Linked DNA regions of Homo sapiens: region 1 is linked to region 2. Evidence: fine-mapped expression QTL. A gene starts in region 2. The other region holds a variant in brackets. All regions are shown on one strand. Distances are between the middles of the regions. Region 1 overlaps RTKN2 (rhotekin 2). Region 2 holds the start of RTKN2 (rhotekin 2).

Region 1 (2,918 bases), 57 kb after region 2:
TGGAGTTGATATTACTCCCTCCAGGGGTAGCAGATGAGTGTTATCTTCCTCCCTGCCCTACCTTCACTGTCTCATATAGTGATAAATTAATAGGTTTTTATCTATTCAGTGTTTTAAATTACTTGGTTTTTAAATCTAATGTAGATATTTTGATTGTTTTTCTTACCTTGCAGATTTGTAAGGGAGACATGCTATTAGCGTTTTCTTTTTGGTTTTTTGTTTGTTTGTTTGTTTGAGACAGGGTCTGGCCCTGTCTCTCAGGCTGGAGTGCAATGGTGCCATCACAGCTCACTGCAGCCTCCACCTCCCAGACACAAGGGATCCTCCCACCTTAACCTCCCTAGTAGCTGGGACTACAGGTACGTGCCACCACACCTGGCTAATTTTTGTATTTTTTGTAGAGACAGGGTTTCACCATGTTACCCAGGCTGGTCTCAAACTCCTCGGCTCAAGCAATTCTGCCTGCCTCAGCCTCCCAAAGTGCTGGGATTGCAAGTATGAGCCACCATACCCAGTCTCTTAGTATATTCTTTTTTTTTCCTATTTATTTATTTATTTATTTATTTTTGAGACAGAGTCTTACTCTGTTGCCCAGGCTGGATTGCAGTGGTGCCATCTTGGCTCACTGCAACCTCCACCTCCCAGGTTCCAGCTATTCTCCTGCCTCAGCCTCCTGAGTAGCTGGGATTATAGGCACCTACCACCATGCCCGGCTAATTTTTGAAGTTTTCGCTGTGCCCTGTTGGTAGTGCCTACAAAACAGCTAGCTACTGGCCATAACTATTATTTACCTAAAAGTTTTAATTACCCCATATATATATATTTTTTTTTTAAGTAGAGATGGAGTTTCACCATGTTGCCCAGGGTGGTCTCGAACAATGTATTCTTAAATAAACAAAGGATAAAAACCAGTTTGGTATTTTCTGATACAGCAGGTAAGGATCAAGTAAAACTTTTAAGAATAGTGTTCCTCGGCTGGGTGCGGTAGCTCACGCCTGTAATCCCAGCACTTTGGGAGGTCAGCACGGGCGGATCAGGAGATCAGGAGATCAAGACCATCCTGGATAACAGGGTGAAACCTCATCTCTACTAAAAACACAAAAAATTAGCCAGGCATGGGGGCACACGCCTGTAGTCCCAGTTACTCGGGAGGCTAAG[TAAGG/G]CAGGATAATTGCTTGAACTTGGGAGGTGGAGGTTGCAGTGAGCCGAGATTGTGCCACTGCACTCCAGCCTGGGTGACAGAGTGAGACTCCATCTCAAGAAAAAAGAATAGTGTTTCTCTTTTAGTTTTTAGTATATTTCTAATGGTCTCTAAGATCTTTAAGCTTAATAATGTTAAACATTAAATACAAATCAGAGTTTTTTGTCTTTTGATTGTCTTTCTTCTTTTCTCATGAAAATAATTTTCCTTAATGCTACTTAAAAATTATTTGAAAACATAAATTTCACAATTGCTAAGGTATATAAATAATAGTTCTGTTATTTAGATCACAGGATCTGTTCTCAAGCTATAATTCTTGTCCTTCTAAATGGCATTTCTTGTAAGGCTAAGTTAGTTCATTAATTTTCATAGGGAGCCATCTGTGGAAATAGTCACATTAAGGGAAGAAAAGCCTAAGAGCTATTCCCCTCCCATTGTCAATCCAAATTTGAAAGGGTGATTTACTTCAAAGTGATTGCTTCAAATTCAGAAAACTTCACAAGAATGTTCTTGAGCAAGACATTCTCAATAACAGGTACTTAACTGAATTTCCTACACATTATAGAAAGCATTTTGTTAACTAAAGCTTTATCCATTGTCAATATGGTGAGGGGTGTGACGGTTAAAAAAAAGTGTGAGTCTTTGAGATCAAGCCTTTTCTTGTTTTAAATATTATATACATCATTCATTTTAATAAAATCTGTACTAAACAAGTCAATAACACTATTTAGTGTAGTAGACTTTGGATAAATTGTTTTGAAAATACTTTTAACTATTATATTTATCATAGAACCTAGAAAGCAAAATTATTATGAAGCACATGGGATTTTAATCCAATTATATTAGTTTCCTTAATATCTAATCATATCAACTATTCAGATTTTTAAAAGTAAATATAGCAAAAATAATTTTTCAAACATTTTCCTGTAGGAGTTTACATCTGATTTAATTAATATAAATTTAAAATAATTATATTAAACTGATACTAATCATACCTCATGGTTGGTTTAACTTACAGCTATGCATTACATATTTCAAACATTCCTTGTCGTATACATGAAGATATCCTTTTTTGTCATTAGAGTATATATAAAGTCTAAAGCTTGTTTTTAGCACCAACATTTTGTCTTCATTGCTGATTAACAGGACTTCAGACGAAGCACTTTTCAAATAACTCATTTATCTTTACAGCATGTTTGTAAGGAAGATGTGAGATATCTGCATTACAGCCAAGAAAGAGGCATTAATAATAGACTGACTTTGGTTTTTGTGTTTGTATTTTATTTTTTAATTATTTTCTTTGGAAAAAAATTCAAGGTAATTTATACATAGAATAGTATAAATGAACCCATGTGTACTCTCACACATTGCCCCCACATTAGATATATTTTGAAGCAAATCCTAGAGACCATATCATTTTACTTGTAAATATTCCAATTGTCACACTTAAGAAAATTTATGGTTTTATATATAAGTTGTCATATGTAGATATAATTATATGTAGTTAATATATCGTTAAAAATCCAGGCAGTCTTTAAGATCCCTAGTCTCAATTTTTGTAAGTTTTTGAGTTAGGATCCAAATAAGGGCCACATATTATGGTTGATTGATTAGGTCTTTTAAGTCTCTTTAGAAAAAGGAATGCTCATACATTGTTGGTGGGGGTGTAAATTAGTTCAGCCATTGTGAAAGACAGTGTGTTGATTCCTCAAAGACC
Region 2 (2,918 bases):
ATGATCTTGCCTAATCTCTTTCTTCTAGTATCATAAATAAATGTATCTCCAGTTAAATATCTGGTTTTAACTCATCAAATACTCCTCTATCAGTGTCCAATTCTAAACTGGTTGACTCACCTCTGTTTTAATGAAGTGCTGGCTTCTACATGTATTTTGATCTGCAACTGAGAGCTGTATGTGTTGTAAGTACTATGTGTCTGATGATGGGCTCGCGGTGTGTTTTTCTTTTGAGTCAGGTACTACAGCTAGGCTCATGCAGCCTCATACTGAGTAGGAGATAATTATACCACAAAGTGGTAGCATAAGACAGAGATGTGCATTGGAGGAAAGGGCACATAATGATTCTGAAATTCAGACCTGTGTTTGTAGAAAACGAGGTGAGCTCCGTGTTGATAATTTTGAACACATATTTTATTGTTGTAAGGATATGGGTCATTCATAATGCAAGGGGACCATCATTCCCAACTGGGAAGCTTCTAGTATCACCTAGTCCAAAAGGTCTTAAAGAGGCATTTTACCTATTTGAGGAAGGGTATCCATTATATTTTTAAAGTACATTCTCAAACCAACTGCTTTTAAAAGGGTCTTGCAGTTAAAATGACCACATAATATCCACTACGGGATAAGTGCAAGATTGGTGCAACATTGGGACAACAGACCCAGACAGGGTCTGTCCCAGGCAAATGAAAAAACATGGGCACCTATTTATGGAGGAAAAATGCCCAAGGGTTTCTAGGCGATGAGGGCTGGAGGGTTGATTTGGTAGACTCTTCAAGAAGAGGCTTCCTCTTGCCTTTTCAAGGGGGAAATAAAGATAAACTAGGGACAATGAATTTTAAGGACTTTTCAAGGGTGTGATATCTTTGCTGCTTTCATTTTGATTTTTAAAAATCCCATGTTTCCCTTTATAATTAACAAAATCCATGAATTAAAATGGGTCTTTGTGCTAATCTTTAGGGCAGCAAGAAATGAGGCTCTTGAGAAATAGTACCCCATTTTGCTATCACCTTAGATGTTGGAGAGGGAAAGAGAGGGCGAGAGAGCTGAAAGAAATCCTTCGCAAGAAAACAAAGTAAGTGGACAGAGTAGTTGGCGGGGAACATCTGGGATTATAAACACTGGGGGCAAAGACAAGACCTTGTGAAATGCCTGACATAGTATCTCACGAACCTGATGAATAAAACCATGATATCTGGGTGACCCTGGTGACAACGCTGGGAAAGGTGAGAGGAAACAGAGAGCGCTGTGTTTGAGAGTAATGTTATTGGTTCTTTAGGAACGAGACCGTGGGCTCTTAGTGACGCTGTGGGTTCCTGAGTTGTCTGGGAGTACAGGGACTGCAGCCTCGAGTCTGTCCAGCTACGATCACTTTGGAAGGCCTTCGGTGGGATGCGGGCAGAAAGCTCCCAGTGCAAAGGGCGTGCCACGAAAACCACCAGCCAGAAACCTGAGCTGGGACAGGTGCGCTCCGCCGCCGAAGCTTTCCCCGCGGCCCCTCCCACTCCCGTCCCAGGCCCGCCCACATCCCTGTCCGGGACTTAAGTCCGGCACCGCCGCCCTCTCCCCCGCCCCGCCGCGCTAGAGCCTGGGGTCTCGGCAACTTCCGGCGGCGGGAGCTGCAGAGCGCAAGGCGCGCCCACTGCGCGTGCGCTTCGGCCCGGCTCCTCCTGCGCCCCCGGCCCCTGCGACTGGGACTTGGTACGGCCGGGCGGTTGGCGTCCTCTGCGGCTCCTGCCAGGGGCGGGCTTTTCAAATCTTCCCTTTGAAGGAGTGGCGACGGCCCGGACAGTTCGCGTTGGAGATGGAGGGGCCGAGCCTGAGGGGTCCTGCGCTCCGCCTGGCGGGGCTTCCCACCCAGCAGGTGAGTTGCGGGAGGGACCCTGCCGCGGAAGGTGAGGGAGCCGGGGTTCTGTTCCTCGCGCATTTGCTTTGTGGAGGAGTCGGGAAAGCCTCTCCCCCGCTCCTCTATTTCAGCGGTGGCCAGAAACAAAGGGAGGGATTAGGAGACTGCGCTCTTGGGGCTCTAAAGGGCCTGGACATCGGAACCCCCGAGTTTCTCAGGCAGCTGAGGTCCGGATTGGGAAGGCGGTGCCGGGGTCCAGGCGCGCGTTTGCGGGCGCACCTGTCCGCTGCCCTCCCCAGGCTTTGGACGCCTGTCTTTTTGCAGGTGTAGGTGATGCCGGGGAAATGGGAGCCCCTCGATTCCCAAGAAACCCAGCGAGGCCAGTGGACAGCTGGCTTATTACGGATTTAATGGGAAGCACAGTAATGGAGCGATGTCTACACACAACACAGAACTGGTTGGGGGGAGGGGGTTCGGAGCGGAGTAGAGGCAAACAGCAACCTCTGCACTTTAGAAAAAGTTGAAGGTTTGATACTGGGTTCTTTCTCAAATCATTTGAAAGGAAAGAGGGAGTACACGTGACATTGGATAGAAGTTTGATGTTTGCTTTTGAGCCATGTAAAATGCGTTAGAAACCTTTTTATTTTACTTTTTACTAAACCAACATTATTTCTTGGCAGCATCAGTTATTAAAATGTTACCACTTTTCACTCTTAACCATAACTTTAGGGTCTTAAAAGAAAACTCTGATGTCTTTAAGCTGGACCTTCACTTCTATTTTAATCTCTACCTTCTTTTACCTACTTCAGAAATAGGTTAAGCCATATGAAATTGCCAGTTTTGTAGGTCAAAATTGGTAGAATATTTGCAATTTCATTCATATGGAGGCACCTGATATCTTTGTTTAAAAATCTGGGATTTCCTTAGCAGACACAAAATTATTAGTTTTCAATAATACTGTGAAAAATAAAGCAAGACATTAAGATTCATTATGCAAAAGAAGTCCAGTGTCTTTATCAGTAATACTTATGCTGTTTTATGCCAGCATTTTCAAAAATTTCAAAGATTTTGA

The links.
Region 1: its variant is fine-mapped to the expression of RTKN2 in whole blood (TOPMed, PIP above 0.99).

What each region holds. Positions count from the first base shown.
Region 1 is chr10:62,210,019-62,212,936 of GRCh38, reverse strand. The region is part of intron 9 of RTKN2 (rhotekin 2); the gene reads left to right. Among named protein-coding and RNA genes, the nearest start is that of LINC02621, 48 kb to the left of the region's middle. The variant TAAGG/G (reference allele first, on the strand shown) is at 1,159.
Region 2 is chr10:62,267,497-62,270,414 of GRCh38, reverse strand. RTKN2 (rhotekin 2) reads left to right here and starts at 1,571. Exons shown (of 12, transcript NM_145307.4): 1 at 1,571-1,864. The coding sequence starts at 1,805. The region is part of intron 1 of LINC02621 (long intergenic non-protein coding RNA 2621); the gene reads right to left. RefSeq lists a silencer at 1,490-1,819.